Linked DNA regions of Homo sapiens. The protein of the gene in region 4 purifies or fractionates together with the protein of the main gene of each other region. This does not show direct contact. Each region holds a gene or a part of one and is shown on either strand. Other genes may lie near its edges. The genes, in order: MIEF1, GDPD5, PACC1 and MAOA.

Evidence for each region.
Region 1: the proteins of MAOA (region 4) and MIEF1 purify together in Homo sapiens (affinity purification with mass spectrometry; 2 studies listed by BioGRID and IntAct, with this or other methods). This does not show direct contact.
Region 2: the proteins of MAOA (region 4) and GDPD5 purify together in Homo sapiens (co-immunoprecipitation; one large-scale study listed by IntAct). This does not show direct contact.
Region 3: the proteins of MAOA (region 4) and PACC1 purify together in Homo sapiens (co-immunoprecipitation; one large-scale study listed by IntAct). This does not show direct contact.

The regions. Positions count from the first base shown.
Region 1 is NC_000022.11:39,506,025-39,513,157, reverse strand, and holds part of MIEF1 (mitochondrial dynamics protein MIEF1), read right to left. Parts: intron 3,737-7,133; exon of another isoform or gene 3,587-3,736; intron 1,871-3,586; 5' UTR 1,864-1,870; coding exon 1,720-1,863; intron 1,310-1,719; coding exon 1,132-1,309; intron 927-1,131; coding exon 664-926; intron 1-663. UniProt on the Homo sapiens protein: Mitochondrial outer membrane protein which regulates mitochondrial fission/fusion dynamics.
Region 2 is NC_000011.10:75,513,761-75,521,081, forward strand, and holds part of GDPD5 (glycerophosphodiester phosphodiesterase domain-containing protein 5), read right to left. Parts: exon of another isoform or gene 5,255-7,321; intron 4,514-5,254; exon of another isoform or gene 4,456-4,513; intron 3,667-4,455; exon of another isoform or gene 1-3,666. UniProt on the Homo sapiens protein: Glycerophosphodiester phosphodiesterase that promotes neurite formation and drives spinal motor neuron differentiation.
Region 3 is NC_000001.11:212,385,621-212,392,941, reverse strand, and holds part of PACC1 (proton-activated chloride channel), read left to right. Parts: intron 1-5,841; coding exon 5,842-6,051; intron 6,052-7,321. UniProt on the Homo sapiens protein: Chloride channel gated by pH that facilitates the entry of chloride ions into cells upon exposure to extracellular acidic pH. Involved in acidosis-induced cell death by mediating chloride influx and subsequent cell swelling.
Region 4 is NC_000023.11:43,728,424-43,735,744, reverse strand, and holds part of MAOA (amine oxidase [flavin-containing] A), read right to left. Parts: intron 4,505-7,321; coding exon 4,355-4,504; intron 4,052-4,354; coding exon 3,892-4,051; intron 3,047-3,891; coding exon 2,950-3,046; intron 1-2,949.

The DNA.
Region 1 (7,133 bases), on a different chromosome or scaffold from region 4:
CTGCACTCCAGCCTGGGCAACAGAACAAGACTCCATCTCAAAAAAAAAAAAAAAAAATTCTTTCATGTCACCATGCAATCTACACAGAGTGAGAAAACTAGAAAGGAGAGATGGGCACAAGAATATAGGAAGGAGGAGGCCTCTTATAGCTTCCTAGAAGTTGTAAGTAGGACTAAAACATGAGAAACGATTAAAGACACAAGAATAAAGAATAACAGGCCAGGCTCACGCCTGTAATCCCAGCATTTTGGGAGGCCGAGGTGGGTGGATCACCTGAGGTCAGGAATTCGAGACCAGCCTGACCGGCATGGCAAAACCCCGTCTCTACTAAAAATACAAAAAAATTAGCCAGGAGTGGTGGCACACACCTGTAATCCCAGCTACTCGGAAGGCTGAGGCAGGAGAATCGCTTGAACCCAGGAGGCAGAGCTTGCAGTGAGTCGAGATCGCACCACTGCACTCCAGCCTGGGCGACAGAGTGAGACTCCGTCTCAAAAAAAAAAAAGAATAACAAGCATGGATCTCCAAATGCTGCTGAGGTACACAGGATTCGGAAGCTGTAAGACCTCAGTCTTTCTGGCAAGCCTGGGACACTGATCTGTGCCAACAACACTATGGTGCTCAGCACTCAAACCCCACCCACCATGAGAACCACCTTGTTACCTGCAGGTCATCGTAGAGGCTGCCACTCAAGTACATGTCCCGAAGCGGCATGTCAGGCAACTTGGCCCGCAGGAAGCTCCGGAGCTCGGCACATATGTCCACAGCAGCTTGCTTGGCCCGAGCCTGCTCTCCAGCAGGGATGGCTGCCCGGTTCCGGTAGTAAGTAAGAAGTTTCTCCTGCAGGGACATGCGGAGTCGTGACTTCTTCAAGTCTACCTGGCCCTTCCTGGCCACTGGCTTGGGCCGGGGCGGGCAGAATGTATCTGCCAAGGCAAGAGAGAGAGGCACGTGAGCTCTGCCCATGCCTGCTCAGTCCACAGCTGCCTCAGCCCCAGAAAGAAGGGCCTGGCATGGAGGGCAAGTGCTGGCACAGTGCCTGGCACAGATGTGCTCAGGAAACATCTGCTGAGTGCAGGAGTGGTACTGAAAGTCCAGAGAGGTCCCAGGAGGGGCAGCAGCCCTTCTCACCTGTGTCGAAGGTGGAGGAGTCTGTGGGAAGGGTCTGCAAGGACCGGCTCAGGCCCGTCTTCATGTCCCTGTTCAGCAGTCGTGGGGAGCCCATCCAGTTGGGTTCTTCCCAGCTCCTTTTCCCCGAATGGCTCAGGCGGGTGGGGCTGGTAGGGGCACTGATCGCCCGATCGTACATCTGAAATAGCAGAGAGGACACAGGACATAAACCTGCCCTCTTTCCCTATTTCCTTCCAATTTACTTCCTCCCCAGAAGCTCTGTCCTAGTAAGTTCTTTTAGTAATTTTGTTTTTATTTTAGATTATAGAATACTTTGCTCCACGCAGAAAATCTCAGGGAAGACTACATGATATAAGACATAGATAATCCACGTCATGACCCAGAGAAAACTGTTTGTAATATCTGGTATGTTTCTTTCTAGATGCATGTAATGACGATCACTCTATACATACTTTTGAAACCTGTTTTTTTCACTTATCATTGCGATCATTTCCTCCTAGAACGCTTCGACATTTTCTTTCTATAAAACATTACATCTTATGACCATACCACTACATTCCACCCCCAGCCCTGGCTGCATGCACTTACCCGCTTAACTGCCAGCGTGGCGATGCCCAGCATGGCCGCTCCACCCACCCCCAGCACCAGCCGGGCATTGGAGAGCACAAAGTCAATGGCCGTGCCAATGCCATTGTCATCCTTCTTGCCTTTGCGCTCACCAGCGCCTGCCATTGCTCATCTGAGAATGAAGACAGAACACGGCCATAAGTACTGGGACCCCAAGAACCTCCCTCCCCTAACAAGCCAAACCCCAACAAGTACAGGGTACTCTGTGAGTTCCAGCAACCCAAATCTTCTTGCCTCCAGCACTGCATGCTTTAGGGTCTGGAGGGAGCTACAATGTCCCATGATAGATCAGGATGCAAGGAGGAGGGGCTGATCTTGGGTATTGTAGGAAAACTTTCCCCAAGCTAGTGAGATTAAGAAAGCATTAAGCTCAGTGTCAGTCCTTTTTTGTATTACAATGAAGTACCCCACCATGCAAAACAGCCCTCTCTCTGCCCCTTTACAATGTTAAAATGCAGGTCTCTACCCCTTCACAATGTTATAATGCAGGTCTCTACCCCTTCACAGGGGTTATAATGCAGGTCTCTACCCCTTCACAGGGGTTATAAAGCAGGTCTCTACCCCTTCACAGGGGTTATAATGCAGGTCTCTACCCCTTCACAGGGGTTATAATGCAGGTCTCTCTACCCCTTCACAGAGGTTATAAAGCAGGTCTCTCTACCCCATCACAGGGGTTATAATGCAGGTCATTTCTTCGTCCTTTGGCCACTACTTTGTGGAAGGTTAGATCTGAGCGGGACCTTGGAGCTCATCTAATGCCATCACATCACCTCACACAGAGGTTCTCAACATAGGGAGGTGATGTGTCAGGTCTCAGAGAAAAGAAATGGTACAGGCGCAGTGGCTCATGCCTATAATCCTAGCTACCCGGGAGGCTGAGGTGGGAAGATCGCTTGTGGCCAGAAGTTCAAGACCAACCTGAGCAACATGGCAAGACCCCCATCTCCAAAAGTAAAAGATAAAAATAAATTGAGCATGGTGGCACATGCCTGTAGTCCTATCTACTTAGGAGGCTGAGGCAGGAGGAATGCTTGAGCCCAGGAGTTTGAGGCTACAGTGAGCTATGATCACGCCACTGCACTCTAGCCTCAGTGACAGAGTGAGACCCCATCTCTTAAAAATAAAAATAAAAAAACAAAATGGGCCGGGCACGGTGACTCACGCCTGTAATCCCAGCACTTTGGGAGGCCGAGGCAGGCGGATCACCTGAGATCAGGAGTTCAAGACAAGCCTGGCCAACATGGAGAAACCCCGTCACTACTAAAAATATAAAATTAGCCAGATGTGACAGCGCATGCCTGTAATCCCAGCTTCTCAGGAGGCTGAGACAGGAGAATCCCTTGAACCCGGAAGGCGGAGGTTGCAGTGAGCCGAGATCACACGATTGCACTCTAGCCTGGGTAACAAGAGCTAAACTCCGTCTCAAAAACGAAAACAAAACGACACAGTCATCTCCAGAACTCAGGACTCCCCACTCCTTGTATGACGCTTTTTCTACTGTACCATGCTCACCCTTACCCAAATCAAATCGGCCCTTATTCTATCTACTTTCTGCAAACAAAACACAAAACAACATGTACCAAACATCCTGCACACGGAACTGAAACTACACGTCCATATGTGAGAAAGGTCCCTCCATGGACCCTCCTACTTGACAAATGCTTTGTTTCTTGAGAGAAGTGCGCAGCGGGGACTATAAAAGCTTAGGTGAGACTGGTATACCGGGAGATAAAAAACACAAAGGACACTGCAGACTCGACTGCTAACTGGAAAACAAAACACCCATCTGCTCGATTACACCTGGAAGAGGAACTAAAAATGTGTTCACCTGAAAGAAGTACTTGGGCACCACAGCGAAGAGGCTGGCCTCCAGTGCAGTGCTCAGGCCAGTGCTGCTCCCGACTACAGTGGAGTCTTCCTGACTGCAGCAGCAGCAGTCCCCAGATAAGCCCATTCCTGTGGAGTTAGAACCCTGGGCCTGAGCCGGATAAAGGATGACAGTGTGATTCAGATCGGAATACCACTCAGCATGCTGCCACTCTCCTCTATAATATCCCGTGTCCTTCACACCAGGAATGACATAAGGGAAAACAAAGTCGGATACCATTTAGCGTCCCAGAATGGGAGGACATCAAGAGACAGGATCAGCCGGGCGCGGTGGCTCACACCTGTAATCCCAGCACTTTGGGAGGCCAAGGTGGGTGGATCACGAGGTCGGAAGTTCAAGACCAGCCTGGCCAACATAGTGAAACCCCATCTCTACTAAAAATACAAAAAATTAGCCAGGCATGATGGTGCATGCCTGTAATCCCAGCTACTCGGGAGGCCAAGGCAGGAGAATCACCATTGCACTCCAGCCTGGGTGACAGAGCAAGACTCCGTCTTGAAGAAAAAAAAAAAAGGATCACTGAGGATTATCTTCCATGTAAAATAACATTCCTTCTAATACCGTGTTACAAGTGGATATTTCTAGCTTCCACATCTTACGCTCCTGCCTCTACCTCCCTGAAAAACAAAGAAATATTTCTGACTCTATTATTCCAGTAATTGAGTTAACTAAGAGTCACTGTCAAGCCCAAAAATATTTTTTTCCCTAACTAGAGTTCACACCTTGGGGGTACTTTCCTTTTCTCTACCATTTACAGTCAATAGAGGCTTCAGGTTTAGGGACATGAAAGACTATTTCGCCAAACCGAGTACATTCCCACCTCAAATGCACAGAGCAAAGCCAGGGAGAAGAGATAACGTTTGTATTTACAGGTGGAATCAGGGAAGAACAGCAGACACCCTCTCTCCAGTGGCCACTGAGATAGAGACGGGACAAACCAAACTTAGCAGAGGCAAGATAACCCAATCAGGAGAAAAGCAGAACACTATACATTTCCCCACACATAACAATGTCTCTTGTTTTAACTCTTTACTGAAATATTTACAATAGGGAGAGCCACTGGACACATGTGCCCTCTAAATGATCCTTGAGTGTGATGCAGCAGGGCCAGAAGGGCACCTCCTCACTCAGGGCAGAAGCAGCCTCCCTGGACCATTTTAGTCCTTGGTGCCCTTCTGATGACTGGTGAGAGCAAGGTGGTGCTACAGATGACAGAACAGAGCGTGGGTTTTAGAGTCAGAAATCCTGAGATACAGAACTTGCCTTGAGCCCTGACTTATTAGCTGGGTGACCTCAAATGAGTTACTTAACACCTCAGCTACGAAAAGGGGATAATGGTCCCCGCGTGGGACCAAATCACAGGGTTGTAGTGAGGAAAAACCATTCACTGCAATCCTGTATGTGAACGGTATAAACTGTATTGCAGTGGATGGTCTATAAACTGTAAAAGTGCTCCACAAATGAGTTCTCCTCTAGTCTTTTAAGATTTCCATCCACAGGACAAAGGTCAGCTTCCAGAAGTCAGTCAGCAACCCAGACTGTCCTCTGAGTGACAGTGCACCTTTTGAGACTGCTCTAAAACGGCCTTGAAAATTCGCAGTGATGCCATCTTGGACTTGAGATCAAAACTATTTTTTCTTTTTTTTTGAGACTGAGTATCACTCTGTCACCCAGGCTGGAGTATAGTGGGGCAATCCCGGCTCACTGCAACCTCCACCTCCCAGGTTCAAGTGATTCTCCTGCTTCAGCCTCCCTAGTAGCTGGGATTACAGGCATGAGCCACCACACCCTGCTAATTTTTTGTATTTTCAGTAGAGACAGGGTTTCACCATGTTGGCCAGGCTGGTCTCGAACTCCTGACTTCAGGTGATCTGCCCACCCTGGCCTCTCAAAGTGCTGGGATTACAGGCGTGAGCCAACAGCTGAGATCAAAACTATTAAGTTGGGCCAGCTTGTTAAGCCTTTTCGGCCGGGTACGGTGGCTCACGCCTGTAATCCCAACACTTTGGGAGGCCAAGGTGGGCAGATCACGAGGTCAGGAGATCGAGACCATCCTGGCTAACACGGTGAACCTCTGTCTCTACTAAAAACACAAAAAATTAGCCAGGTGTGGTGGCAGGCGCCTGTAGTCCCAGCTACTCGGGAGGCCGAGGCAGGAGAATCGCTTGAAGTCGGGAGGCAGAGGTTGCAGTGAGCCAAGATTGCACCCACTGCACTCCAGCCTGGGTGACAGAGCAAGACTCCATCTCAAGAAAAAAAGGCTTTTCCTACTGTAGTGCAATAGGCACCCCCCGCCCACCATCCAAGGACGGACTGACATCACAGACCTGGTGACCTGGAACAGAAGACGGCATCCACAAGCTCAACAGACAGACACGGACCTTACTTGAAAAGTTAATTCAACTTGTTCCAGTTTAAACTGCTTCTCCATGACACGCTCTCCACTCAGGTTCTGCTGCATAAGCTTACAGCCTACTAGCAGGTAAGAACTCCACCTCCAATCGGGACTGTCATGAAGGAACCCCATTGCTTAATGGGTACAGAGTTTCAGATGTGCCAGATGAAAAGGGTTCTGGGGCTCTGTTACCCAACAATGTGAATATACTTACTACTACTGAACTGTACACTTTAAAATGGTTAAGATGGTTAAAATAAAAAACAAAGAAGGAACACAGACCTGGTGGGCAGAACTAGGGATGGAGAATTTCAGCTCTGCCAATATTTCAGGCAAGTTATTTAACCTGTCTCGCTAGATACAAAAATGGGAACAGAAATGCTCATCACCCTAATATAGTTAAGGATGATGAATAATGGAGGCCTTGCGGCTTCCTAGGATGACAGCACAGAAGTGTGAAAGTTCCAACTTATTTTAATTGAAAAAGCCATAGGCCTTTTTATAAACCTATCTTGCTTGAGTATGTACGAGACTAGGTAGCAGATATTGAGTGTGTATTATGTGCTGGCAATTTTACACTTATTATTAATTCCCTCAATCCTCACAACAACAATCCCATGAGATCAGTAATATTATCCCAAATTTAAAGGATGAAGAAACTGAGTAGTTTCTGTAACTGACCCAAGGTCACTGTGTCAGTAAAGTATGTGACCAAGATTTGAACCCTGAGATCACGCGGTGCGGAGAACTAATCTACAGGGGTCCTAGGTACTTGCTCCACACCTTGTTCCCATCTCCACTCCATTAACCCCCAGACCATATGCTTCTGGGGGACATTTGGGCTCATTCACTGCTGCATCCCCAGGGTGTGCAGTGTTTGATGCATAGGGAGTATATGTTGTGGGAATGAAGTATTAACTCTACGGCGTTTTGTTTCTTGGTTTTTTTGAGGGGGTAGTGATAGCAGCGTGTAGCCCAACTCACAGCCAAAATATATTAGGAACACAAAGATTTCAAGGAACGCCCTAATTCCCTCCTAGATCCGCTAGCCAACCCTCCCTGTGCAGACAGGCTCCCATGGGCATCACCCCA
Region 2 (7,321 bases), on a different chromosome or scaffold from region 4:
CCCTCAAGGCCCACAGAGCAGGGTTCCCCTGGCACCCATAGGGCCTCCTCCTAGACCAGGAGACCACCTGGCTAGTAGCCTCCTGACTCTCCTGTGCTCCACTCCTGCTGAGGACCTAGAGGGCACGGCCTGGCCCAGGTGCCATGGGAGCTGCCGCAGGGACCCTCACCACTTCCCACCGACAGGCTGTGGGACCTCAAGCCAGTCACCTCACCTGCCTGAGCCCGAGGTTTCTCACCTGCAAAATGAGGGATGAAAGCGGATCTCATGTGGGAAAGGAGCCACTCCAAGGAGAGACTCAAACATGACTGCCCTTGAGCTGGGTGAGTTCAGCTGAGTGGGTAGGAAGGGGAGCACCAGGCTCTGTTTTGAGGAGGGAGGCAAAACCCTACCTACCAGGAATCACCCATCTAACCTTGAATTCTCGGCCTGCCCTTGGCAGTCCTGGTCTGAGAGATGGACTCAGCTGCTACCACTGCCAGCCACCAGCAGGACCCTATCTGCTGTCTTCCCAGGTTGGCTAGGGTCCCAGAGGGGGAGAAGCAGGAGAAGGGTCTTCAGTCAGAACTACATATGTCTTCACTGGAGGGACCTGGGCCCTAGAGCACAGACATCCTTGCAGGCCCACGGTGGCCCGAAATGGTTGCTAACTGGCCTTGGGCCACACAGTGAGACGGAGGTGCCAGGACCCAGGCCTTTAGGCCCAGCCCAGGGCTCTCTGCACGGGCCCAAAGTCACCCCTTTTGGAGCATGCATTAAGCACAGAGAGGAAGAACAGTGTGAAGAGTTAGGATGATGCACCCCCTATCCTGCCATGGTCAAGAGGCTCTGGCCATTGACAGTTGAACCCCCAAGCTCCAAGGTGAAAATCAACACCTGGTCACCCAGTTCTCTGCTTCACTCACTGCAGGCACTGACAGGGCACATCTGGACAGAGGAGGGGCTCAGTCTGCCTCTGCAGAGTCCCCAGCAAGAGGAAGAAGGCTCCAATTGCAGCAGAGTGGACTTCAATTAGTCTCAAGAAAGAACTTCCTGCAGAGGCATTAAGCATGAACAGCATACAGAGAAGGGGGGCATGATGAGGGCAACTGTAGCATCTCCTCTGAAATACAGGATGCTGTCTCATTCATTATGTCATTTTACTTTCAAACCAGCCTGGAAGGTAAGTGTTGCTGCTCTAATTTTATAGGTGAGCAACTGAGGCTCAGAGAGGCTAAGTGACTTGCCCATGTCTTCTAAGTTCCACTCAAGAGAGGCAGAGCCAGGATTCCAAGCCAGAATTCTGACTCCGAGGCCCACATACCTCCCTTCTCAGGAAGTCTCTGAGGATCCAGGTGTTACCACACCTGCCATGGGCATCTCACTGTGTCACCTCAGATGCCTAGGTGTGAGCTGGTGGAGATGCCAGGGGCATTCCTTTCAGGAAGGAGAGGGAGTGCTCGCTGGCAGCCAGCTGTAAAGGGCTCTGTGTCCTAGACCTGCCGGCTGTGCCCCTGCAGACAACACCCCGTGGGGGCCTCCCACATGGTTTCCATGCAAAGTGTCATATCTTCTGTCCTCTCCCTGACCATGCCTCCTCTTGGGCAAGGCTCAGTCTCTGGCACCATTATGCCTCCTGCTCCCTGCCTGGCAAGAACCACACCCCCCACCTAACTCCACACCCAGACTCCCCATCACAAGGCCTGGCAGCATTTGGTGGCACTTGCTGCACGGCCTGTCCCAGGCCTGCCCAGCCCCACGCTCCTCTTACCTGACATTCATAGGCTCCTGGGAGACCCTCTGAACTCAGAGTGGCATGGCTCTTAACACCCTGGACATGAGGAACATGTTCTGGGTCCAGGGCTATCCCCAGAACTGTGGCAATGACTGCCCAGCTCTAAGGAAGGTGTGTGAAGTGGCCACATCATGGCCAGCTCTGGGATGGGCAAGTCGCAGCAGGGCTGGGGCCGCTGCTCTGTGCACCTGAACTCGCCTGACACTAGCCTACCTGTGACTTCTGCTCCACTCCAGAGGTTCCCCTGTCCCTGGCAGGGTCACCCCAGAAGCCATCTATAGCTTACTTTGGTGGAGGAGGCAGAGAGGGAGAGATGGGTACCTCCAAAACTCCTCTCGCCGAGGTGTCTGTGGCAGCTCGGCTGCTGATTCATCTTTGGGGTAAGGGCTGAGAGCCCCTTCATTAAGGGGTATGGTAAAAACAGATGATCTTTAAACTGTGTCCTAAGGACAGTGTATTCAGTGGACTCCCGGGCTTTTGATGGACAGAGTGAGGAAGTGTCTTTGGTTTGCTTCTCCAGAGCCACTCTCTACCTTGTTTGGGGCCCTGGGAACTGACCTCTGTGGAATGTAATGGGCTCCATGCTGCTGGCTTTCAGAGAGGTACACCCAACAGGAAGCATAAATGGGGGACTGAAGGAAAGAGGAAAGATAGTTGAAGTTTATCCCCTGTGAGGTCTCCTGGGTTGACTGGGTCCCTGTACTGATGGCCCACAGCCCCTATCCCTATAGCTGCCCACTTCCCTTGCTCCTTCAGCCCTGAGTGGTAACTGCTCCCAGCCACTGCTAGTCCCTCGGTGCTGCACTATCCCGTGTTGATTTGTCACACGCCTAATGCCTGAGCCAGTCACTCTGGGTTGATGTACCCTCTCTGGCTGTGCCCAGGCAAGGAGACCAAGCACTGCCACTGATGGCCCCTTTTGTAGTCTTCCTCTGTCCAGTCCTCAGAGCCTCCTCTGGTCTTAAAGAAGAGCAGTTTGAAGGGATGCCCATGATTACATGTGCAGGCCTCCTCTGTCCTCTGTCTCAGCCTGGGCCTGGTGGGGCAAGGGGAGCAGACTGGGAGACAGGGAGCGTGGACCAGCCAGTGAAGGAAGGGGCAGGAGGCAGGGGTCAGCTCCCCAGCAAGTGCATGCACCAACAGCTCTTGAGTGCTTAGTTTACGGTAGGCACTGTGCTCCACATACCAGTAATTTTATTTGCTTCTCAGGTAATCCCAGGAAGTCCTTCCTACAAATGCATTTTATAGGAGAAACAACTCGTGCTCAAAGAGATAAAATGATTCTTCCAGGGTCATCCTGCCAGTAAGTGACAAAGCCAGGATCAACATAAGTTTTCTGTCTTCTGTATGGTAGACACGTTGGACAGTGATACCTGGACTTGAGCAAGCCCTGAGAATGACCTTGTATGGCAGGCGCACCTCAATGCAGTTTGGTTCTAAGCTAAGGAATCTGGGAGTAGCCAACCCGGAGATCCACTCCTTATCTATGAGGAACATCTGAGCTCTTGGCCCATCCTATGGAACTTGCGGGCCAAACAGAGGATTGAGGTCTGTGGTTTGGGGTAAATGGAGGTTGCTAGGTGGAAGTTGTTGGGGGAGGTGCTAAGTGAAAATGCTATAGAAATTGCAAGCTTTTAGGCTGGGGGGCGGTAGCTCACAGCTATAATCCCAGCACTTTGGGAGGCTGAGGCAGGCGGATCACCTGAAGTCAGGAGTTTGAGACCAGCCTAACCAACATAGCGAAACTCCATCTCTACTAAAAATACAAAATTAGCTGCGTGTGGTGGCACTTGCCTGTAATCCCAGCTACTTGGGAGGCTGAGGCAGGAGAATCGCTTGAACCTGGGAGGCGGAGGCTGCAGTGAGTGAAGATCGCGCCATTGCACTCCAGCCTGGGCAATAAGAACGAAACTCTGTCTCAAAAAAAAAAACCAAAACCAAAACCAAAAACAAAAAAACTGCACACTTCCTGCGAGTGGTTGTGGTTCTTCGGTCCAGCCAGCAGCCACTGGACTCTCTCCCCTGTGTGTGAGCCCGTAGTAAAACCCCATGGCTCATTCGCTGGCTCTGGGTCTCCTCTTTGGCCTCTTGAGCCTGGTGCCATCCTCACTGGCACTGATAGGGGTTTAGCTCAACACCTAGTAACTACCTTGAAATAATTTTAGTGAACTGGCTCACAATCACAGCAGAGTTGGATGACTTAAGTGGGGTCAATTATCGGTGAGGATTTGCACAGAGGCCTCCAATGTTCCCTGGACACCCTCCCCTAGATTAAAAAAAAAAATCCTCTGACATTCTTCAGTTCTCCCAGGTGGGACAGGGGCCCCAAGCAGGTGGTGCAGTTGGGTGTCCGGGTTGGAAAAACAAGCAGATTCAGACAAGGCTTCATTGTTAAGGAGAGTCTGACACTTTGACCATTAAAGCAAAACTGAGCAAAACAAAATGCTTACTGCCTTGTCTTATCTCTTAGAGAGAAAGGGGACAGTGGGAAGGGCCCCCGGGCTGGGTGTTGATCCCACCCTAACCAGCGCCAGTCTCAGAGACCTGGCCTCAGGTGGCTGGGGCAGGGAGTTCAGGGTCTCAGTCCAGCCCGGCGTCAGGTATGGGGTGGGTGCTTGCCATGTGTGGCCTCGTCTGGCCTCTGTGGCCCTTTCAGAGAGATCGTTATTGTCATTTTTCAGATGAGGAAACTGAGGCTCCGAGAAGACACGCAGGGAGCAGCTGCATGCTGGAACCCAGGTTAACTGGATTACCAAGTCTTCCCACTCCCCTCATCTCTCCAGGCAGGAAGGTCCTGGGGGGAGGAAGCAGCCTCGGAAGGAATGAGCTCCTTGTCCTGGGGATGTGCAAGTATTGTCTTGGGACACTGTGGGAGGTAGGCTGCAGAGGGCAGCCAGGTGGCTCTCAAACTGAAATCACCAGGGGAGCTTCATCAACTACTGATGCCTGGGTCATGCCCCAGAGATTGTGGGGCCTGCAGGACTTTTAAAAGTTTCCCAGATGATTCTAATGTGAAACAAAGTTTGAAAGCCATGGGCTTGGATGCCCACTGCTGCCCTTCCCACCTCTGAAACTCTCCTGCCACACGCCTTTCTAAGGAAAGAAGGGATTTATTACCCTGACCCCATTTTACAAAATGGGCAGAAGCCAAGCAAAATATAAGGGTGTCCTCAAGGCCCCACAGCCAGCAACAAATCGAGGCAGCATGAGGGGTCCCCTGATTTCAGACTGCCCCTGGGGTGAGCTTCTTTAAGACACTTGGGGGTTCCAGCTCCCTTGTCAGTGGGAGAGAAGTTTCTCTTTGAGCCTCCTGGGTGAGAGAGTGAGACATTCTTCGTGGCATTTTTTTTAAAGAGTCCACTCGTTCAAAAGCTAAACAGCTGCAGGATTAACGCTGGAAGACCCCCTCTGCTTGCTGGTGTGCCTTGGGAGCAAGAAGATAAAAGAACTCAAAGCAGGCCTGTTTATCCTTTTCTGCAGGAGATTTGGTCACAAGCCTGGGAAGAGCTGAGCCTGTCAGACCAGCAGCCCACACTTCCTCCCCACCTGCCTTTCCGCCTTCCTCATGCCCTGAAAGCAGAATGTCACAGATGGAGAGATGGTGTGGGTTGGTGGGAAGTGAGAGGCCTGTGGAGTCCACTGGTCCTGGGGTCTGCCCAAGCTCTCCTCCTTGCCAGCTACCTTTGGAGAGGAGCTACTCCTCTCTCAGCTCATTCAGTGCTGATCTCACAGAGGTCCAAAGTCAGCAACATGGGCACCACCTCCAGGAAGGCTTCCCTGACTCCCCTCCCCACCCAGCGCCGGGCAACCCCAGGCCCCTGGCCTTCCCTGTCACATTCTGTGTTGTCACTGCTTCTGTGTCCTCCCAACCCTACCAGGCTGTTCATTCATTCATTCCACGGAGCAGCTGCCCTTTGCCTGGGATTCATTCCAAACGCCTTTCCTGAGCACCTGTTTTCTCTAAGATCCTCTGTGAGGTGCTGGAGATACAGATCATAACAGCTAACCTGCACTGAGTGCTCATTATGTGCTGGGCATTTTTTTGAGTGCTTTACACGTATAATTCATTTCACCCTCACAACTCTATGATGAAGATGCTGTAATTATCCCCATTTTACATATGGGGAAACTAAAGCCCAAAGAGGTTAAATCACTTGCCCAAGTCATTTAGCCCTACCCTGTGCCACCAGCCACAGATACTGATGGGACCGGCCCCTGCCTCAGGAGCCTGCTTCTCACAATTTGGAAGTTTTGCATCTGTGTGTTTCCTTGTCTAATGCTGTTTCCCCCACAGACCAGAATCTCCAACCATGTTACATTTCGGTTGGATGTGTGTGTGAGCAGCACCAAATAAATGCTGCTTCCCTTTAAGGAAGAACTCACACTCTCTGCCCAGCATCTGCTAGCTGGACGCCAGACGGCTTCTCCCACCTGGGTCATTTCTTCTGCGTAGGCCTGAGAAGAAAACCCAAGTCCCCAGATATCCCAGTCCTGCTCCCTCCCCTGAACCTAGCTCGGGACCCTTCCAGGCCAACAGCACCTGCTTACACACCACTGTTCACAGGGAAGGTGGTGGGAACTGTGAATCTGCAAACCCCAGCTAAGTCCCCCTAAGGGAAGGCCTCCCTGCCATCTGGCACGCCCTCCCTCCAGCCATCACTCACTGGACTCTTCCATCAGCTTCTTACTGAGTTGCTCGTTCACGAAGCCATCGAGGGGATGGGCAAGAAGACTCATGCTGATGGAGTACCCACCTGTGTGCCAGGCCTGGACAGGCACCCCACTTCCTTCATCTCATTTAATAACAGTTATTATCAGCCCCAATGTACAGGGAAAAAACAGAGGTGCAAAAGTTGAGCAAGTTGTCCATGGGGCAGCTTGCACTGCCTCCCCTGGCCCGGAGGGTGTGGCTCTGTGCCAGGCACACTGCTAGGCACTCAGAGGGAGGGGAGGATTCGGTGGGGGCACATAGAATCTAGTTTTGACAAGCCAGCAAGGGAAGCAGACCAAGCAGAACCCCAATCCACAGACCACAGTCAGTGTGCAGAGGGCCATGAATCAGCAGCAGAGGAGGCTTGGATCCCACCTGCATGGGAGGAGTACTGGAAGCTTATAGCAGGCAGCATCTTTGGACCTGGTTGAACTCCTTACTGCTCTTTCCCATGGTCACAGCAGGAGAAAGGGTAAGCCTTGGCCTACAAAGCTCTGGTGCCCAGTGTGTGTTTGCCACCACCCCAAAGGGGGCAAAGGGAGGAGAAGCTGGCTGCCCTGCCAGTGACCCCGCTGTGGCCCGGCCAGCCTGCCTCCAGTCCCGCCAACTTGGCCTGGCCTGGCCCAGCCAGTTCCCAATCACAGGGTCTCCTCTGCCAGCTAATGACCATGCTGCCTGCAGCTCAGGCCACCACCCTCCTTTGGGCGAGGCAGCTACCCACACAGCCTGCTGGCCCAGACAGTGGCCAGGCCAAAAATCACAGCTGCCCGTCATACCACATCCTCTGGCCCTGGTGCTGTGGTCTCCTCCTCCTCCCTCCAGGGTCACGAAAGACG
Region 3 (7,321 bases), on a different chromosome or scaffold from region 4:
GACTTGCTTTATGAATCTGGGTGCTCCTGTATTGGGTGCATATATATTTAGGATAGTTAGCTCTTCTTGTTGAATTGATCCCTTTACCATTATGTAATGGCCTTCTTTGTCTCTTTTGATCTTTGTTGGTTTAAAGTCTGTTTTATCAGAGACTAGGATTGCAACCCCTGCCTTTTTTTGTTTTCCATTTGCTTGGTAGATCTTCCTCCATCCCTTTATTTTGAGCCTATGTGTGTCTCTGCACGTGAGATGGGTTTCCTGAATACAGCACACTGATGGGTCTTGACTATCCAATTTGCCAGTCTGTCTTTTAATTGGAGCATTTAGCCCATTTACATTTAAGGTTAATATTGTTATGTGTGAATTTGATCCTGTCATTATGATGTTAGCTGGTTATTTTGCTCATTAGTTGATGTAGTTTCTTCCTAGCATTGATGGTCTTTACAATTTAGCATGTTTTTGCAGTGGCTGGTACCAGTTGTTCGTTTCCATGTTTAGTGCTTCCTTCAGGAGCTCTTTTAGGGCAGGCCTGGTGGTGATAAAATCTCTCAGCATTTGCTTGTCTGTAAAGTATTTTATTTCTCCTTCACTTATGAAGCTTAGTTTGGCTGGATATGAAATTCTGGGTTGAAAATTCTTTTCTTTAAGAATGTTGAATATTGGCCCCCACTCTTCTGGCTTGTAGAGTTTCTGCTGAGAGATCAGCTGTTAGTCTGATGGGCTTCCCTTTGTGGGTAACCCGACCTTTCTCTCTGGTTGCCCTTAACATTTTTTCCTTCATTTCAACTTTGGTGAATCTGACAATTATGTGTCTGAGAGTTGCTCTTCTCGAGGAGTATCTTTGTGGCATTCTCTGTATTTCCTGAATTTGAATGTTGGCCTGCCTTGCTTGGTTGGGGAAGTTCTCCTGGATAATATCCTGCAGAGTGTTTTCCAACTTGGTTCCATTCTCCCCGTCACTTTCAGGTACACCAATCAGACGTAGATTTGGTCTTTTCACATAGTCCCATATTTCTTGGAGGCTTTGTTCGTTTTTTTAAATTCTTTTTTTCTCTAAACTTCTCTTCTCGCTTCATTTCATTCATTTGATCTTCCATCACTGATACCCTTTCTTCCAGTTGGTTGAATCGGCTACTGAAGCTTGTGCATTCATCATGTAGTTCTCATGCCATGGGTTTCAGCTCCATCAGGTCCTTTAAGGACTTCTCTGCATTGGTTATTCTAGTTAGCCATTCGTCTAATCTTTTTTCAAGGTTTTTAACTTCTTTGCGTTGGGTTTGAACTTCCTCCTTTAGCTTGGAGAAGTTTGATCGTCTGAAGACTTCTTCTCTCAACACATCAAAGTCATTCTCTGTCCAGCTTTGTTCCGTTGCTGGTGAGGAGCTGCGTTCCTTTGGAGGAGGAGAGGCACTCTGATTTTTAGAATTTTCAGTTTTTCTGTTCTGTTTTTTTCCCCATCTTTGTGGTTTTATTTACCTTTGGTCTTTGATGATAGTGATGTACAGATGGGGTTTTGGTGTGGATGTCCTTTCTGTTTGTTAGTTTTCCTTCTAACAGTCAGGACTCTCAGCTGCAGGTCTGTTGGAGTTTGCTGGAGGTGCACTCCAGACCCTGTTTGCCTGGGTATCAGCAGCGGAGGCTGCAGAACAGCGAATATTGATGAACAGCCAATGTTGCTGTCTGATCGTTCCTCTGGAGGTTTTGTCTCAGAAGGGTACCTGGCCGTGTGAGATGTCAGTCTGCCCCTACTTGGGGGTGCCTCCCAGATAGGCTACTCAGGGTTCAGGGACCCACTTGAGGAGGCAGTCTGTCTGTTCTCAGATCTCAAACCCTGTGCTAGGAGAACCACTACTCTCTTCAAAGCTGTCAGACAGGGACATTTAAATCTACAGAGGTTTCTGCTGCCTTTTGTTCGGCTATGCCCTGCCCCCAGAGGTGGAGCCTACAGAGGCAGGCAGGCCTCCTTGAGCTGCGGTGGGCTCCACCCAGTTCGAGCTTCCCGGCCGCTTTGTTTACCTACTCAAGCCTCAGCCATGGCAGGTGCCCCTCCCCCAGCCTCACTGCCGCCTTGCAGTTGGATCTCAGACTGCTGTGCTAGCAATGAGCGAGGCTCCGTGGGTGTGGGACCCTCTGAGCCAGGCGCGGGATATAATCTCCTGGTGTGCCATTTGCTAAGACCATTGGAAAAGCACGGTATTAGGGTGGGAGTGGCCCGATTTTCCAGGTGCCATCTGTCACAGCTTTGCTTGGCTATGAAAGGGAATTCCCTGACCCTTTCTGCTTCCCGGGTGAGGCGATGCCTCACCCTGCTTCAGCTCACACTCGGTGCGCTGCACCCACTGTCCTGCACCCACTGTATGACAAGCCCCAGTGATACGAACCCAGTACCTCAGTTGGAAATGCAGAAATCACCCATCTTCTGCATCTCTCTCGCTGGGAGCTGTAGACTGGAGCTGTTCCTATTCAGCCATCTTAGAACCCAATATCAATAGTCTTTTTTTTTTTTTTTTTTCTTTTTGAGATGGAGTTTTGCTCTTGTTTCCTAGGCTGGAGTGCAATGGCGTGATCTCAACTCACTGCAACCTCCGCCTCCCGGGTTCAAGCGATTCTCCTGCCTCAGCCTCCTGAGTAGCTGGGATTATAGGCATGCACCACCACGCCCAGCTCATTTTTGTATTTTTAGTAGAGACGGGGTTTCACCACATTGGCCAGGATGGTTTCGATCTCTTGACCTTGTGATCCGCCTGCCTCAGCCTCCCAAAGTGCTGGGATTACAGGGGTGAACCACCACACCCCCGGCCTCAGATATTTTTTGTGACCCATTTTCTGTCTCCAGTTACATGTCACTACACTGCTAGATACTGTAACAATTTTCCGGGCTCCATTTGGTTTTTTTTTTCCTTCAATATTTTCTTCAAATTGGATAGTTTCTGTTGATTTAACTTTGAGTTCACAAACTCTTTCTCTGCCATCTTTTGCTATTAAGCCTATACAGTGAACTTTTTATTTCATTTATTTCTTGTCAGATCTGGAATTTCCATCTGTTTTTTTAAATTTTATGAAACATTTTTACAGTGGTTAGATACACGTAATGTAAAACTCATCATCTTACTCATTAAAATGTAGAGTTCAGTGATATTAAGCACTTTCATATTGCTGTGCAACCATCACCACCATCCATCTCCACAATGCTTTTTCATCCTGCAAAACTGAAATTCTATATATTTGGCCATTGTTATTAGTTTCTGTTTCTCTATTGATCTTGTCTTTATTCCTTATTCAGATATTTTCCTTTAAGTGCTGTAAATTTTCTCTCTGCTAAATTGCAACACTGGGTCATCTTGGTGTTGGTTTCTATAGATTGCTTTTTTCTTGAGTACAGGTCACATTTTCTTGTTTCTTAGCATGTCTAGTGATTTTTGATTGAACACTGGACATTATGAATGATATAGAGATTCTGGATTCTGTTATGATCTTCAGAAGGGTATTTTTTTTTCTTGGCATATTGTTAATATGGCAAGATTTAAGCTCTAAACTCCTATCTCCCCTGCATTAGCCGTAGTTGAAATCTCCATGCAGTTCTTTCAATTTCCAGTTGTTACTTTTTGCTGGCCCCCCCTGGGTTCTCCAGCCAAGGATCTGAACATATATTTAGTTGCAGATTTGGGAGTTTCACCCCCTGTGTGGCTCCCTCCCTTTCATGGTTTTGTCTTAACTTTCTGGCTGCTCTTCCAGCCCTGAACTTTGTCCCTGTCACTCTGAACCATGCCTTATAGGGATTGGCATGTATTCTTAGGCAAAAAGCTACAGATGTATAAATCTCACCAAGTACAGTTCTTCTCTTTCAAGGGTAGCCTCTCTTTCAATTTCTACCTGCTTTTGATCATTCTCCCAGTGCCTTCAAATAATTTAAAATATGTTGTCCAAAGTTTATAATTGTTTTCTGTGGAAGGGTGATGTGACACTGCTACTCTGTCACTGTTGGAAGCCAGATGCCAAGCAGATACCTTTTGGGGCTTACGTTCAGATGCTTCCCTTGTTCTCAGCCTTGTGCTCAGCTGGGCTGTGGAGGAAATAGGACTTCTTCTCAGGGAGCTCCATTTTCAGCTGAGGAGCAGAGAGGGCACAGGGAGCCCTGTGGGAGTATCTTAGTCAGCTCAGACTGCTGTAACAAAATGCCACAGTTGAGTGGCATAAACAACAGAAATTTATTTCTCACAGTTCTGGAAGCGAGAATCCAATATCAAGGTGCCAGCAGGATTGAATTCTGGTGAGGCCTTTCTCCTTGGCTTGCAGATGGCTGCCTTCTCATTGTGTCCTCACATGGCCTTTTTTCCTGTGTGCATGTGCTCCTAGTGTCTCCTCCTCTTATAAGGATTCTGGTCCTATTGGATCAGGCCTCATCCTTATGGCCACATTTAACCTTAATTATATCCTTGAAGTCCCTGTCTCTAAATATACTCACATTGAGGGTTAGGGCTTCAACCTGAATTTGAGGGTGGGGGATACAGTTTCGTCCATAACAGAGATTAATCTAGCTTCTAGCCTCAGGATTTTGTGAGGGAGGTAGGGGAGACAGAGTTGTGTTGTACCAATAGCATCAGGACGTGTTCAATCAGTCACCATGTAAATGCAGAATGTTCCAGGCATAGCATGAAGGGCTAAGGATTCAGTTAGGGATAAGACTGGCCCCATCCCTGCCCTCATGGAACTCACAGCCTAGGAGGATAAAAGATGTATAGACATGACATTGCAGAGTGATGAAGTAGGGGACGTACAGGGCTCCCTGGGAACACTGAGGAAGAGGTGCCCAAATAAAGGTTAGGGGTCAGGAGAGGCTTCCTCAAGAAAATGTCTTTCTTTCTTTTTTCTTTTTTTTTTTTTTTTGAGATGGAGTTTCGCTCTTGTTGCCCAGGCTGGAGTGCAATGGAGTAATCTCGGCTCACTGCAACCTCCGCCTCCTGGGTTCAAGCAATTCTCCTGCCTCAGCCTCTTGAGTAGCTGGGATTACAGGCATGCGCCACCACGCCCAGCTAATTTTGTATTTTTAGTAGAGACAGGGGTTTCACCATGTTGGTCAGGCTGGTCTCGAACTCCCGACCTCAGGTGATCCTCCTGCCTCGGCCTCCCAAAGTGCTGGGATTACAGGCTTGAGCCACTGCGCCTGGCCAAGAAAATGTCTTTCTAAATTAAAATGCTTCCATGGAAGGATGGCGTGACCAAGCTACTCTGTCACTGTTGGAAGCCAGATGCCAAGCAAAAAGCTTTCGGGGCTTAGGATGAGTGAAGCATCAGCTGTGGAAGAAAAGAAAATCAAGCAGAGGGAATGGTAAGTGTGAGGGAATCCCGGGTTGAGAAGGGCACTCCAGAAGAACAGAAAGTCGATGAGTAGAGGTGGAGCTAGAGCTGGGAGAACTGGGGAAGTGGAGCAGTGAGGGATAAGGCCAGAGAGGTAGGTTGGGGCCAGCTCACTTGTTGGATTGTAACTGCCTATCCCTCTAGAGAGTAAACTCCTTTTTTCTGTTCTTTTTGTTTGTTTTTTGCTTTTTCTTTTAACATTTTTATCGTTTTTTATCTTTTATCTTTTTTCTTTTGAGAGTAAACTCCTTAAAGACAATGAATAAGTCTCCTTCAGCTTGGTGTCCTCTACCTGGCAGAGAAGCTGTGTAGTAAATGTTTACAGGTGCCCTTTGTTATGATTTGTGGGGTGAGGTGGAAAGGTTGGGCGTGCAGGTGACTTCACCTCCTTGGTGAGGCAGGCAAGGGCCTGGAGGTTGCTGGCCATCTCTGTCTGTACCTTGTCCCTGTGCCCTGGGTCACATGGTGTTTTGTTGTTGTCAGGCCTGGACAGCGAGTCCGCCTCCAGCAGCATCCGCTTCAGCAAGGCCTGCCTGAAGAACGTCTTCTCGGTCCTACTCATCTTCATCTACCTGCTGCTCATGGCTGTGGCCGTCTTCCTGGTCTACCGGACCATCACAGACTTTCGTGAGAAACTCAAGCACCCTGTCATGTCTGTGTCTTACAAGGAAGTGGATCGCTATGATGCCCCAGGTAGAGCCTGCCCCTGGGCCAGGCATCAGGGCCCCAGATCTAGGGTGTCAGCTGGCAGATACTCCCTGAGCTGCCGTTGTATTTGTGGTACTACGGGCAGGGCAGAGGAGTCCAACCAAGCATAGTCTAGGTATAGAGTCTATGCCCAAGGAGCTGCTGTTGGGAGTGTGTTACGTGCTGAGGACAGAAATGGACAGAGCCTGGAGCAGCTACTGCAGGCTACTAGAGGGGTCAGGGAAAGCTTGGCAGAGAGGTAGGATTTGAGATGGGCCTCGAAAAGCACATAGATGGGAAGAGAGTGTCTTTGGGATGGGGATCAGCAGAGCGAAGGGGTGTCTAGGGAGGCAGAGGGCTTCTCTGGAGAGGATGAGACTAACTTGGCTGGGGCCAGAGGGCAGGGATGAGGAGAAGCAGGAGTCAAGGCTGGACTGTGGGGTGGGGAGGATGGCAGGGGAGGCGAGGCCATTCAACCCTGCCTGGAGAGGGACTCCCAGGCCACACTGGGTATACCTGTCTCACTGGGGTGTCTGGTCCCTGAGTGGGGAGTCCACTCTGCTATAGAGCAAGCTATCTGCTCTGGGCTGCAGGGCTGGCACTGGATGTTCTAGGGGCTGTAGAGTAAATGAGGAGGCATGAGCTGTGTGACTTGGGCCCTGTCCACCCAGTGTGTGCCACCTGTTCTGCCCACAGATGCCCCTGAGTAACCTGTGGGAGGGCCTGCTCACATGGCAGAGCCAGAGTCCGGGTGCCCTCTCTCTGGGGCTTCCTGCCAGCCTCCAGCAGAGTCAGGTGTGCTGGTCATGGCTCCTCTGCCCATCTCTTCCTGTCTTGTGTTTGTCCCTCTTCTCTGTGTGTCTGCTTGAGTCTTCTTTATCTGTACGTTTTACTTTCTCTGTCTGGTGTCTTAGTGTCTCTGAAGTCTGTCTGTCTCTGATGCCATGTGCTGCTGTCTTAGCATTGCTGCCCTTGAGGCTGGACAGCTACTGTCAGTAGAGGTGCCTGGGCTGGGAAGAGGGAGGGACTCTTGGGATGTGACTTGCACACTTGGGGCTCCCAGTCTAAGAGACAAAATGAGTTCTGAGGAGTTCCACAGTTTAGAGCCTCCCAGTGATTCTGCAGGTGGGTGTTGGCCCAGAGGGGTGGCACAGGGGCTGAGTCAAGAGACACTCCTTCGGAGGGTGTGGAGCGGGGCTCTGAGGTGGAGTGGGTTTTGATGTGGGCATCAGGGCGGCTGGATCCCAGGTTGGCCAGGGGCTTACTGAGGAGGGGC
Region 4 (7,321 bases):
AGAGAATGCCTCGCTCAAGGTCCCACCCCTCCCTAGAGTTGTTCTGACCTAGATGCGGTTGAAGACAACTCTGAAGGGCCACCCAGCTCCAGAACTTCCAAGGGAATGGCAGAGGCCTTTGTTGGGACAACATTGGAGCTCAAGTTCCGCATAATCCTTCTGCCATAGGTAGTCATCCCCAGAGCACTTCCCAATAAAGTTCCAGCACCCAGATCTCCAGCTCTGAGTCAGCTTCCCTGGAAACTGACCTAATATAGTCCCCAAATAAAGTAACTCAATAAAACTCAGTTATAACCTGCCTGCTCCCCTTTAATCAAATATATTCTATTTATTATACTGATATTACTAACTGCATGTATATTTAAAAGAATTGAATTGTGACATGAAGTCCTTAGTTATACTATTATTAGAAAGCTTTCAAAAATCCAAATGAGCTAAAGGACAATGAAATTATTTTTCCATTAAAAAATTTTTAAATTTGTATTTCTTTTATTCAAGACCAAAAGGACAGGTAGATCAGTGCAAAAAACAGATATTTCCTCCTCTCCCTACCCACAAATTAAAGTGTTCCTCAAATTGGATTGGCAGTTCCTTTAGGGCTGTTATTTGAGATCACTTTGAGAAGCAAAGATGTATGTTAATGTAGAGAATAGTATTTCAGAGAAAGCTGTGGACTATTTAGGAAATCTGAACTATTGAACTTTATGGGATATAGTCATAATTTTGCATGATTTAACACCTCAAGTTATAGCTTGTTATTAATTATTTTAGTTAGATTCTGGGTTTATGCAAGAATCAGTAAGTTTAGATGTATATAGTTTTTTTTAATCATCAATATCTGATAAAAGATTAAATGATTTATCTGAAAACATTTTTAGTCAACTTGTCTTGTATACTTTTTACAGTTCCCTTCCCAAAGGGCAGTTAGTGTTGGTTATTTCTGTCAAATCTCAAGTCATGAATGAAATAATCTCTTTGATCTAATCCCAACTATGGATAAATAAGCTTTAACTTACTTTGGTGTTTTATTGAGGAAATTAAACATGCTGGCTTTGTGTTGGAAACATTTCACAGTTCTAAAGTACAAGGTCCTTTCTAGTTTCCAAAAGTTTATTACAAACACAGTGCTGGGCAATTACCACCCCTATCTTCAAGGTTTTCGTGGCTGTGGCCATCAGCAAAGAGCAGGGTGGAGGCAAGTGTCAAGATGAAAGAGATTAGAATATCACTTTCTAAGAATTGCCTAAATAACTCCATTAACACCTGGAAGGTTATTTGAGCCCTAACCTAGTTAATAATAAAGCTGAAGAAAGCCCAAAAGCATTGTACACATAAAAACTTGCACCCACAACCAATGCTCAATAAATGGTAGCTTTAATTTTTAAGACTACATCGCCAAGTTAAGAAACAGATTATTTTGGTATTCCCCAGTTTCCAAGGAAACTCTCATCTTCTGTACTTGGTCCTCTATAACCAATTATTATTATTTTATATTTGTTTTAGCCCCACTGTCCACAGAACACAACCGTTTAACATTTTCCTTTTATACTATTTATCTTAAGTAAAATCATTAAAATATTGAGTTCCACTTCCAAAAAAAAAAAAAAAAAAAGAAAGCCCAAAAACAGCAGAAGACATCACTATATCTAACTCCCAGGGCAAGAAAAATATCAATTGCTCTTCCATTCATAGTTGGATTTGTCTTAACCGACATTCTCCTGAAACCTGTACCTGAACCTCCTGCTTTTCTCTGGCATATAGAAGATGATGTCAAACTACCCAAACAACCTATATCCTCTTCTGCCCAATAGGGTTAGAGATGAAGAGGATGTGTTATTCCAACAGTCATTATGTTGTAAGCACCTGCCTTTCTCAGGGAGGCTGGTGTTCTTATATGTTACAATGAGAGAAGTGGTTATAAAATGTCTCATTAGTAACCAGCAGCACAACCTGCTTTCTAACTTCCCTGGGATGTGGGTCTGCTCCTTTTGCCTTTGTAATTTTCCTTCAATGACATGATGTGCATGAGTTCACCTTTCCCTCTGAGCAAGAGCTATGCATTTCCTAGGGGTAAAGGGGAGACCACTGGTCTCTAAAAGTCACTTGATTGCTACTGAAGCTATGTTCTTTTGTTACAGTGTGGTAGAATAAATCGCCTTTTATTTGTATAGTTTTTGAGGAGGCCAAAAGGCAGGCAAGAGGGAGGCTGTGGAACTCCTTAGCAATTCATTTGTGGGGACACCACTTCCTTCTCTGGACTCCCCAGCCCCCAACGAGTAGGACAGCTATGTGCCGGAATGAGAAGAGAGGGGAAAAGCTCTCATTTTCCCTACACAGAACCAGGCCCTGGGTCATCCGCACACTTTAGAGGTTAAGTGAAGCACCACTGGTGAAGGATAACTAGAGTGACCCACCAGAAAAACTGCCATGCCATCCAATCAAGGCCTGGCTCAATTCTGAACTGGGCCTCCTAATTGGTCAGCTGTCTTATATCTCAGGGTAACAACTAACATTTGCTATGTAGCAGATATCTGGAATGGAGAAAAGGATAAAACCGAGAAACCCCACATTTAGAATGTTTTTATAGAATAAAGCGGTTAGTTCTCATTTCAGAATGGCTGTGGACATTCTGCCTGTAGGCAGGGGTGGCTACCATACTGCCTGTCTAGCTGCTTTTTTTCACTCCATCCTCAACACGTAAGCTTTGTATGAGAGAAAGACATACATGGGTACAAGTTCAAAATGGTGTCAATTTTAGTAAAGTTTCCCAGTATTCTTGTGCTACATACGAAACATTACTGCAATATTTTAACACATGGAAACATTATATATTTTGATAGCATTATTCATCATTGCTTGAACTTAATTCCAAAGTAATATACTTTGACAGCATCCACACCAATACATCAACACAATTTGGAAAATGCAGAACACCCTGCTCTAACCTACCCCATGATGGCAGGCAGTGACCCATCTGGCTTGGTGTCATCCAAGGTTATTGAAATTGGAGCATCTTCATCTTCAATGATCATGCAGCCACAGTAATCTTAACCAGGAGAAAAATCAATGGGAGATCGAGATCAAGCTCATCAGAGACACCCATACACACATAAATATATATAAACTATTTTTTAAGAGGAAGTAAAAACTTAAACTCTTGGTCTTGGCCCCAACCCTACATGTCTTGTTAAATACACACACTGAATATATAAGGATGTCTATTCACCCACAGACAGAAAATGACCCATCTCCATCACCTTTACATAAAGGGCTTATGACCAGCCAATGCATGACAAAAATGGTAAGATAACCCTGGCTCCTAGCATACATGAGGAAAGAGAAGGGCTGCATTGGAGGGAATGACCCAATCCAGGGAAGAGGTGGGAGGAGGGAATCCGATGAGTATAACCAGAATGCTTATCAACAGTAGCCACCATATCTGGGCAGCTTTCTAAGTCCAAGATCCTGCCTCATTTAATTCTCACAACACCGTAGTGGTAGGTATTACTGTCACCACTTTACAGCTACAGACTGATGCTAGCAAGCAAGCGAAGTCCCGGAATGTGTAACTTCAACGCAGTGCTCTTTCCATGGTGCCTGTTGACCTCACTCTGCTCATAAAAAGTAAGAAGCAGGACAGATGCCAGGAGTCAGGGCAATGGTGGCCTTATGACTGATGTGATCTCCTTCTTCCCTCCCATTGCCAACAAGTGCTCTTGGGGTCATTATGTGTGGCCAAGGATATGAGGAAATTGACAGACCAAGATTTCTAATCCTTTTTCTACCAGTTTGAAAATACTTTGTTTCTGTTCAATACCTTCTGTTCAATAATCCTAAAAGACTGTGATTTCTTCATATAATACAGTTTAAACATGAATAATAGCAGCCTACCCTTCTTCTTCCAGAAGGCCTCCTTGTAATACATCATGCACTTAATGACAGCTCCCATTGGAAGCCGCTGAATTAACTGGTTTCTCTCTGCTGGAAGCTCTGGTCTGAAGTGAATCTTGGCAGTCAAGGTCGGAGGGATCGCATTAATTACGTATTTGCACTAAAACACACACAAGCAAAATATTACCTCAAATGTGAGCTGCAGTCTTTGTGGCAGGCGTGAAAAATCATCTTTATCACTTCTAAACAACATTGAGCAGTAAAAACATACAAAATGAGAAAATGAGGCAACTGTGAGGCAACAAAACAGATCAAGGTAGGTCAACCAAGGCTGGTAATTTGGAAGACTGAGGCGGAAACATGTCAGCATTAATTATGCTACTGCTTGAATTATATCTGGTTAGAAACTGCAAAAGACACAAGGCCTATTTACTATATGCTCCTTTTGACTAAACTGAGTTACCTCATAATGTTCATGGTTCAGCGTCTCTATGATGATGTTGTCACTTGACTGGTCAACGTGAGTGACAGGATGGTTCAGCTTCACTTGGTCTCCGAGGAGGTCCATTATCCGTTCGCTCACTTGACCAGATCCACCTACAAACTTCCGTTCCTACAGGAGGAGGTAGGTAAGAAAGGAAACATTATGAAAGCCCAAGGAAGGAAAATCCTACTGGCTACTGATTAGAAAACCTCCAGAAAGTCACAGGCCACACCTCTAACGTCTGCACACTTAACTGTCAGAAGACTTCATTAGGACAGAGGCAGAGTTGACCAAGACAATTCAATGATCATTCCCTGCACAGCTTCTGGCAAAGAAAAGCCATTACAAGTTTATAAAAATCACAGAACCCGAAGAAATGTTCCACTATGCCAATGCTGCCCTGACCAAGGGGAATATCAGCAAGTCTGTGGGCTTCAAATGTCAAAGAGTGCAGGGTGTGGAGGGAGCCCTGAGAAGGGGCAGGCACAGGGCTTATTCCAGAGGATGAAGTTTCTAATTTCCTTTGATTCCTGTGTTCTGGGCTGAGGTTGTCCAGGCAGGTAAGGATGCAGATAGAGCCATATTATAGACAAAGTTACAGGGTGCTTTTAGGGATAGTCACGTCCTACTAGTCCTACTAGTCACCACCAAATGATGTTCTAAGAATGGGAAGAAGGGCCGGGTGCTGTGGCTGTACTAAAATTACAAAAATTAGCCAGGCGTGGTGGCACGTGCCTGTAATCCCAGCTATTCGGGAGGCTGAGGCAGGAGAACCACTTGAACCCAGGAGGCGGAGGTTGCAGTGAGCCGAGATTGCACCACTGCACTCCAGCGTGGGCAACAGAGCTAGACTCCGTCTCAAAAAAAAAAAAAAAAAAAAAAGATTCGGAATATCAGATCTTGAGTAACTTTTTGCAAAACTATCTGGAAGCTTCAAGGCAGAGGCAGAGGGTGAAGGCTAAGCATCTGCTTGCTCCTTTAGATATTGTTAAATAGTTCTCTTGAGCGGCCCTTATAAGACCAGAAGTGCTCTACCCTCTGCCTTCTGCTACGATCACCATGGAAATGTTTCCAGCTTAATCTAAGAAGGTAAGTCCTTAACACAATGCTTTTGGTAAGAACCAGAAGGATATTTTTAGCCTATTATAGAAGATTCTTTTTTTTTTTTTTTTTTTGAGACGGAGTTTCACTCTTATTGCCCAAGCTGGCATGCAATGGCGCAATCTTGGCTCACTGTAACTTCCGCCTCCTGGGTTCAAGTGATTCTCTTGCCTTGGCCTCCCGAGTAGCTGGGATTACAGGTGCGTGCCATGACACCTGGCTAATTTTTGTATTTTTAGCAGAAATGGGGTTTCATCATGTTAGCCAGGCTGGTCTCAAACTCCTGTCCTCAGGTGATCCACCCTCCTTGGCCTCCAAAAGTGCTGGGATTACAGGTGTGAGCCACCGCGCCCAGCCAGAAGATTCCTAACAGATTCCTCAATCATACTCCTCCAGAAAACTGCATAAGCAGCCACGCAGTGATTTTTGCACTTTTGTAACTGGCTACTGTTTTAATAACAACACCAAAGTTCTTTATAAAAAATATTCCTGGCTAGGCATGGTGGCTCATGCCTGTGATCTTAGCACTTTGAGAGGCTGAGGCGGAAGGACTGCTTGAGCCCAGGAGTTGGAGACCAGGCTAGGCAACAAAGCAAGACTCTGTCTCAAAAATTAAATTAAAAAAAGGAAAAAAAATTCCCAGAGTGGTTCAGACCTAAATTCATGATTTGTCTTTCCTCAAGAAACCCAGACCATTTAACTTATAATCTGGTCTGTTTTCTAAGAGGTACTTTGAGTTTTAGTGTGGTGGAAAGACCACGAACTGTTTCTGTCTTGTTCACTGTCCACCCCTCCAGGTCTAGTATTTGTTGAATTAAATTACAGGATAAGCCTAAGTTCTTTATAAAAATATTGTGACCATGGTTTGAGATTAATCATCTGAACCATATTTTCCAAAAGGTCATGTAGAATTTGGCTAGAAGTATCCTGGCTCCTCTGAATGAAGGAAACAAATATCAAATGTAAATCAAAATACCTCAGAAAGTAAAATACTGGCTAAAAGGAGTAATCTGTCATCTCTGCCTGTAGGTAAAGACATTTAAAAAATGCAACTGTCCTGCATTTGTCAAGGCTAAGGGTCAAATGGGCAATGAGTCTTGGTGTCACAAGAACTTGGGGATTTCCGGTGATCTCCTCAGGAGAAGAATAATTCACTTGGCAGAGAAAGACTCTATACCTTGTACTGTGCACTCAGAATTCAGGAACTCAGAGAACCTAAGTTAGAAGTAAACTGCTACTAATTAAACCTCATACCATCCAAGCACAACATTTATAGAACAGAGATACCCATTCTCTTTGGATAACAGAAAGGGTTGAAGCAGAGAATCTCAGAGTCTGGGGAATTAGGATTCTGGCTTCGCCATGTGTCCAGCCAATGAACGAAATGAATTCACTTATTAATAAAGGAAATGATATGGAAACTGGGCAAATTCAAGTGGGTAGCAAAAACTAAGAATCCAAAAGGCAGAATTTACTATTGCAAGAGTGGCCATAATCACTTGCGTGAATTAGAAGGAAGAACAGTCACTTCCCTTCTGTAGCAGTTAACATAAAAGAATCACTCTGATAAACAGATGGGACAGAAACCTTGTGTCTAGAACAGAGATGATTTTAAGTACAATAATTGTACAATTTCTAGAATTTTTTGGAAATTATTTTAGGAATTTAGCTTCTCCTACATAAACAGCCTAATTTTACCTGCTACCAAAAGGAAGGAACTTAATTCTCAAAACCTAATTAATTCAAAATGAAACATTCTTTATCTGTGAACTCCTTTTCAGGAGTGACAAAAGGAAATGAGAAATTTTTTTTTCAGAAAATCTTTTGAGATCATTTCATGCTGCT